Linked DNA regions of Homo sapiens. The protein of the gene in region 1 purifies or fractionates together with the protein of each later gene. This does not show direct contact. Each region holds a gene or a part of one and is shown in the gene's direction. Other genes may lie near its edges.

The links.
Region 2: the proteins of NCKAP5 (region 1) and KIF3C purify together in Homo sapiens (affinity purification with mass spectrometry; one large-scale study listed by BioGRID and IntAct). This does not show direct contact.

What each region holds. Positions count from the first base shown.
Region 1 is NC_000002.12:133,565,664-133,569,742, reverse strand, and holds the start of NCKAP5 (nck-associated protein 5), read left to right. Parts: upstream 1-1,279; 5' UTR 1,280-1,527; intron 1,528-1,661; exon of another isoform or gene 1,662-1,799; intron 1,800-4,079.
Region 2 is NC_000002.12:25,975,998-25,979,497, reverse strand, and holds part of KIF3C (kinesin-like protein KIF3C), read left to right. Parts: intron 1-3,500.

The sequences.
Region 1 (4,079 bases):
TGAGGAAATAATTTTCAGACATGCAATGAGCATCTGCTGGGGGTAGTGAGATGTGAGGTCATTGTTTTCCAAGGCCAGGGAGAGAGCTTAATCTAAACATACACTCCATGCCACAGAATCAGCTAACCTTGTTCCTGCCTCCACCCTCAATGCTCACCCCCCACCTCCCACATTTCTGTTTAGGATTCACTATGGCAAGTGATTTAGGTATAAACAAATAACACTTACAAGGCAGCCCTCAAAGACCTTTCAAACTGAGTTGGGGAGACAGAACACAGATGGCTAAAAAACAAACTAAAAATACTAGTCAGTATATAAAAAGCAGCAAGTAAATATAAATAGTAAGCATCGTTATAGCAGTCCAGAGGAAGGAAGGAAAACAGTGGGCTGGAGTGTTCGCGCTTCGTGGCAGAGACTAGGTGTTGGATCTGTGGAATTTCTCTAGGTGGGGGCTAGGGGTTGGAGGGGAGATAACTGTAAAAACTATAAGAACCAACGGACAGAAGAGAGATTCCATGAGAGAGTGGAAAATAGGGGAGAAAAGGCCCACTTTTATTTTGATAGTTGTGAGTGGGATTTACAGTGTTCTGTGAGATTATTAGAAAGACTTGGCACAGATTCTTATTTATTTGTTTTTTGGAGTGTCGGGGGTGGTGCAGGTGGGTGGTTAAAATTTTAAGAATCAGAAGAAAGCCTCCAGCACTCTTCTCAGGAAAAGAAAAATTGCATATTTGCAAATGCACACAAAATGTTGCTGTGATTTCAAGGATCCCTTCCTTCTACTCCAAGCTGAGACACTAGAATGTATCTAAAAGGAGTTGCACCCAAGACAATCTATCTAGGAAAAATGTCGGCCAGGTGTATATATCACAGTAAAAGTAATTAAGCAATGTAAGACACAACCAGTATTCATATATTCATGAATCATCAGGCTCTGAAGTTGACTCGAAACAGGTGGGTAAACAATTTGGTAGGGCTGTGCTGGCACTTCAAACTTTTCCTCCAGGTCTCCAGCTATTCCAGTGTAAGCTGGTGGAGGCGATTCTCTGTCTTTTTCAGACCTGAAAGAAGCCATCCTCTCAAAAATGTGAATCAATGGGATTATTTACGCATGTATAACTGGAATCCACTCCAAGATGCCGATTTTGCTGCAGAAGAGATACTCTTCCTCCCCACCCCCTCCTTTCTTTTTGACAGTCAGTTAATAAAGACTCAACAATAAGCAGCTGCCAGTGATGTCATTTGGGACTTTGTCCACGGAGCTTGTATTTACAAGCTCGAAGCAACTACGGAGCCGCAGCCCAGGGAGCAAGTCTCCGCAAACTTGCTCCGCATTCACGGCAGGACTTCCCAGCCGCTGTGGATGTTCAGGAAAACCGAGTCTGTTCTGTTAGCGTGGCCTTTGAATGCTTCAAAAATAAACAGAGGATAACCAACCGCGGGAGGAAATTTTTAGCTGGAGAGAGTTGTAGTTCCTGTGTCTGTCTCCAGGACTGTGATATGTGTTGACTGAAGAGCTAACTACAAGTAAGACTGTTGGGATTTTTTTTTTAAACTCTTGTAACAGTTTTTCTTATTTATACAGCTTGTTTTCCTTCTAAAGTGAGATGATGATGTTTACATATTTCTCCAGGCTCTTTCGGCTGTCACAGCAAGTATGCGTTTGTTCTAAGTAACTATAGGGCCCTAAAGTGGACTGGAATTAGGGGTAGAGGACCCCTTGTCTCTGAGAACAAATACCAGGATGCAGATGATAAGGAGATACTGAATGGCTAATCCTCATTTGCCTCTGCAGGGAGGTCAGGTTTGGTTTTTCATTTGTTTTGTTTTTGTTTTTTAAAGAGATACAACCAACCAAAAAACTATTAGGCTGATCTAGAAAGTTTAGCAGACAACTATGAAGGCTACTTTTTCATGAACTGGTACACTGCAGGGAGAACCCACTTTTTGTCTCTGATTCTTTCTGTGGTTTATGGATTTCTAGTGTGTGGATGTTGATGTTTATGGTCTCTCGTCCCCTCCTACCTACACTCTCTCCCCAAACACACACACACACACACACACACACACACACACACACACACAGGCTCATTCATCCTCAGGAATGTGTATGTATCAAAAAATATTTTGAAATTGAAACTGTTTCTATTTGGATTCTTTTCACATTGAGTATCTGGAGAAATGTTCAATGTTCTGACTTGTCTTCTGAGTTGGAACCCAAGTTAATGTACTACTGAAAAAGGCAAACTTTGACACTGAGCTAGATCGGTATACAAAATCCACATGTTCTCTTTTGCCTGCCTCAGGGCTCTTTAAAACTCTCCAGATATTCTCTGGGATTTAAATAGGAAGAGTGAGCTTCATGTATGCCGCCAGCCTGGACAGGAACCTCTTATCCCACCTGCACCGGCTGGCCCGTGAGCTATTCTCTGTTGCCACCCGGGAGTTCTGCTTAAGAGCCCAGTGAAAAATTGTCTTTCTGTCCTTCAAGCTACCAGCTCTGCTCCTCAGTGCCTGCAGTTCAGCCTCTTGCAACCAGTAGCAAATCCCAGCTGATTCCTGCCCTCTAGACCTGACAGCCCAGCCCGCTGCACGGATTGGCAAGAAGTGGCTGTTAGCCTGTTAGCTCCGCATGTGAACCCCATGACTCACTCAGGAGCCTGGCTTGCTCCTGAATTCAGCTGCTCTGTCACCAGCCCAGAAACATGGTGACAGCCTTCACTACCTTTTCCTTGTCTCTAGTCTCAGAATTGTGAGAAGCCAGTGTCAAAAGGCCTCAAAATATTTGACTGTTTTCCAGGGAGTCCTAAGGTGGGTAACATCCTGCCTCTTTGTCAGCTCCATTTTTTTCCATCAGAACACATTAGGCTTAGATATGTTTTGTGTATTAGAGCTCAGTGCTCTTTGCAATTCTTTGCTTAAAATAAGGGACTTGCTGCTAAAACAGATTTCAAACTATTCATCAAAGTTTATCCTTTCACAGAAGAAAACTTGGGGCACAAGGAAGAGAAGTGATTGTCCAAGAGCACCCAGTAAGATGGTGGCAAAGCTACAACTAGAAACTGAGCTTCCTGTGTTCATTCCAGCATGTGTCCCACTTCTCAAGTTCTTAAATATTGAAAAAGAAATGGGACCCACACGCGGTTCCTATGCCTTCTTGTAGGAACAGGGCTATGTGCAGGTGTACAGATGAAGGTGGTCTGGCAAAGAGAGAACATTCCCGTTTTGTCTTTGGCTCTCGTTACATTTCTTAAGGTGTCTGTTCCTCATTGTTTTCACTAGCAAACCAAAGAGAACTCTGTGATTATTTTACAGATAATGGCCTAAAAGCAAATGGAGCAGCCTCAGCAGTTGAAATAGTTCAGAAGGCATTTTGCACTGGGTACAGGCTGGGATACCTGAGGTGATTCCCAACTCTGATACTCAGTGTTTGTGCTTTACTTCCAAGTCTCAGACTTCTTCTTATGGCCACAGCTTGCTTTGCTTTTCCTCTTTTGGGCCCCTCTCTCCAGTGGAACCTTCTCTTCACTTTTTCATTGATTCCTCCTTCCCACTTCATTCTCTCACTGAAGCCTGGACCTCAGTTTCCAGTATTCAGCTAGATCGCATACACCCGTCCATTACCCTTCTCTCTGGAGCCTTCCTTGTCCCTGACATTCCTACCTAGGGGCGGGGGGCCTTCCTGGACTCTCCTGGTCCAAGTGGTGATTCACTTGTTTCGACTGTCATGGTATCTTGTGCCATTTTTTGCCCTGGGATCTGGAGCTCTTTGCCATGTTGTTAAATACCTCTTTCCGTCGAAAGCAAGGGCTGCTTGCTATATAATACTTCTTATAGCTACAGCACTAAGCACAGAGTAGTTATTCAATGTATTATGCTAAATAAATGAATGAATTAAATATCCATTTTCCTGTTGCAAACACCCAAGCCTCAGGACTTGGTTGGCAAAATTACCACATTACTGTGCTGATTGGCTTTAAATTCTTCTTCACTGTGGTTGAAGGCCCTTGATGCCAGACTTCTGACCATGAAGACGGGGATATTCTTGATGTGATGCCTGGCTGTCTTTCCTGGCTCAT
Region 2 (3,500 bases), about 110 Mb from region 1:
TTCTGTAAAATAGAGGGTTGGCCTGGGTGATCTCTGAGGCTCTACCTATCTGATAATTCTATGGCCTATATTAATCTGAGCAGCAAGCCAACCGACCCCTGCCCCGAGGCCTCATCACAGTTAATATCCAATTCCCCATAACCCTGAGAGATGTCAGGACCTCAGCATCCTTCCTGAGCTGTTTCCTCACCCCCGGGACCTTCCAGGCTCTAATGGGGCTAACTACAGAGGCCCCTCCCTGTCCAGTCATAGACCTATTAAGTTGCATTGCTGAGGATGCCACAACTCAATGTTCCAGGCATTTCCAGGCCCCTGGAGCCTTCAACACTAGGGGTGGAAGGAAGGACACAGGAAGCCATGAGCTTGCTGGGAAGAGCAAAATATTGCCATTTCTTATTCCTTCTCAGGAATGTGGGCTGGGGAGCAGGGGGGCCCAGCCTACAGCCACTGGGAGAGTGACAGATGAGCTGTATGCCATTGTCTGTTTTGGGAATGTGCTGCTGCAGCAGGGGCTCTGGCCTTACATATTTAATATTTAATTCACTTCTTTGAGCCCAGGAAGAGTTATGCTGAGCTGTTTCCTCAAGGAAAGGATCAGGGGCCTGGAACCTTTAGGGACATCCTGAGAGAAGCAAGATATTAGAGGCAGGGCCGTTAGATTGAAGCCCTCCCTAGGAGGGAGGGAATCCAGTGTTTGCTTACCTGGTCAATCTGCCATTGATTTTGCTAAGAAGACCCCCCACCTCCCTGAAAGCTGGAAGGCAACAAAGGCTAAGAAGGGAGGAAAATGCAATAACACACTTCGGCTGCCTGAGGGATGGGGTGAAGGTTTCCGTTGTTGGGAACTGACCAGTTTCCCTCAGTGAGATCCTTGGATCTAAGGCAGTATGGGGCACAGATGATAGAACGGCCAAGAGATCAGGGCGGCCAGCACCAGAATTCTTGCACCAGAGGCATAGCCCACAAAATATCACAGTCTTAGAGTTGGCAGGAGCTTTGGAAAACTGAGACCTGGACTTGCCCAGGGCCACACAGGTGAGTTGAGGAGAGCCTAGCCCCTTTATATATGGAAGAGCCCAGCCTCTTTCCACTGCTTGAGTCCTAATGTTACCTGTGCTACTTGATAATCAGAGTAATTCATTTTTATATAAGGCGTTGACATCTTAATCTCATTCGATCCTCCCAACAACCCCAAGGGGTGGGTACTATTATTTCCATTCAACAGTTATGAAAACTAAGGCTGGGGAGGTGGAGTGAGTGTCTTATCAGCTCGTGACCCTGGGTGATAGGCAGCAGAGCCAGGACTGGAACCCAGGTCTTCTGATGCCCCCAGCCCTGTGCTCTTTCCAAGGCATCTCAGATTCCTCCATGTTTGCTCACTGTGTGACTCAGGGCAACCGCCTTTCCCTCTCCAGCCCTCAGGCTTCCATTCACCTAATGAGGAGGAGAAGCCTGACCTTGCTCCCTGGGGAGTGGGTGAAACAGTCACTATGTACCAGGTGTTCAGATGGAAGCAAAGGGGGAGGAGTGCCTGGGAAATTCCACAACAGGAATGATTCCATACCCTGTGACTTCTCATCACACTCAGCCTAGGACAATCAGCAGCCAGCAACCCAAAATGGAACCTAGACAGAGGACCCAAGTTCCCCATAGCCCCAAGGCACCGCCTGGTTCAGTGTCGGATGTTTCTAGGCTGGTGGAAACAATTTGAGGGCTCTTGAGGAATCTACAGGGTAAAGAGGGGAGGAGCATGTTAGAGATACCAACCCCAGTCCTGCCTATTTCCCAGGGTTGAGGATTAAATGAGATCATTAGCACGAGGGCATTTAAAATAAGTTGAAAGCACCAAATACATGGAAGGCATTAGCAGCTATGGGGTGGCTTCTGTCCACCAAGCTGGGGTCCAGTGATCTCCAGGACAGACATCTTTGTTGTTAGCTTGACTTCTTCTTTACCCTGCCATCCCAGCTGCCTTGCCATAACCCTGCAGCTTGCTGGGAGTAGAGCCAGGCAGGAGAGGTCTAGGAGATTTCAGAAGGCAGGCTCCCCATCTGCAGCTCACTCCTGTCCCCCCTTTCTGAGTTATGGCATCAACTCCGCTTCTTCCCTGACCAGCTCCCATTCCCTTCTTCCAGTTCATGCCACCCTCTGGGGGCAGCTAAGTGGTAGTTGATGCGACCCAGTGCCCTCATTCACTCTCTCTGACTCATCTCATAGTCTGTCTCGCCAGCTCTCCCTGCCTGCCACCTCCCAGGCTCCCTGTTCTCTTTGTTCTCCCCTCACTGTGCACAAACACCATGCCTGTCTCCTTGGAATCTCATTTCATCCCTCCTTTCATGTTTACTGTGGGCCTCAGGGGATGTTCGGGTGTGCAAATGTGTGAGAGTTTGTGATTGTGATCAGTGTCCTGTTTATCAGTAATCATTAGCAATTTATACTTATGTAGTGTCTGGGGGAGGGAGGGTGTGGGCGGGAAATGCTGGTGGGAGCTTGATAACATACTAGGCCTGTGAGGTAGGAGGAATAGGTAACATCACAGACCCACAATGCACAGTGAAAACTTCAAATATTTGGTACTGCGCAGTGAAAACCCAAATATTTGTGCGCAGTATACATACTGCAGTGAGGACAGGTGAACACACGTAGATTGGTTGGGAGAAGGCCTACTTTATTCAAATGTAATCATGCAAGACAATTTTTAAATGACTGCTTTAATTTTGAAATTAACTTTTTTTTTGAGATGGAGTTTCGTTCTTGTTGCTGAGGCTGGAGTGCAATGGCACGATCTCAGCTCATTGCAACCCTGCCTCCCGGGTTCAAGGGATTCTCCTGCCTCATCCTCCCTAGTAGCTGGGATTACAGGTGCCCACCACCATGCCCAGCTAATTTTTTGTATTTTTAGTAGAGACGGGGTTTCATGAGGTTGGCAAGGCTGGTCTCGATCTCCTGACCTTGTGATTTGCCCACCTCAGCCTTCCAAAGTGCTGGGATTACAGGCATGAGCCACTGCATCTGGCTTAGTTAATTTTTTCAAGGAGTTGGACTAGATGATTCCTAAAACTTTGATTTTAGCTACTTAAAGGAAAAAAAGAGTGTTTGTGTACAGATGATACAGAATGCAGGCACGAATTGAAGACAGAAACAACAGCATCGGATGTGATCCCCAATAAGAAGGTCTGGAGGGAGAAGAGCTGGGGTTCTTGGCTGGAGCCCACTCTCTCTGTGGTGAATGTAGAAAAGAGAACCTGCAGAAGCAGCCCCGGAAGCCAGAGGGATGCGGTCATAAGGAGGAATGCGAACTGTGTTGAAATTGTATTGTCCCTTTTGTGGGTCCTGCTTTCTCCCACCCCTCAGCAGGGGGATTAACCATAAATGCAAGAGAGAATGTTTCAAGCCTGAGCGACAACAGTAACAGTAATAATAATGACATTTACTGAGCACTTGCTTTGTGCCAAGTGCTATCCTATATACAGATTATCTCGTTTATTCCACATGAGCAC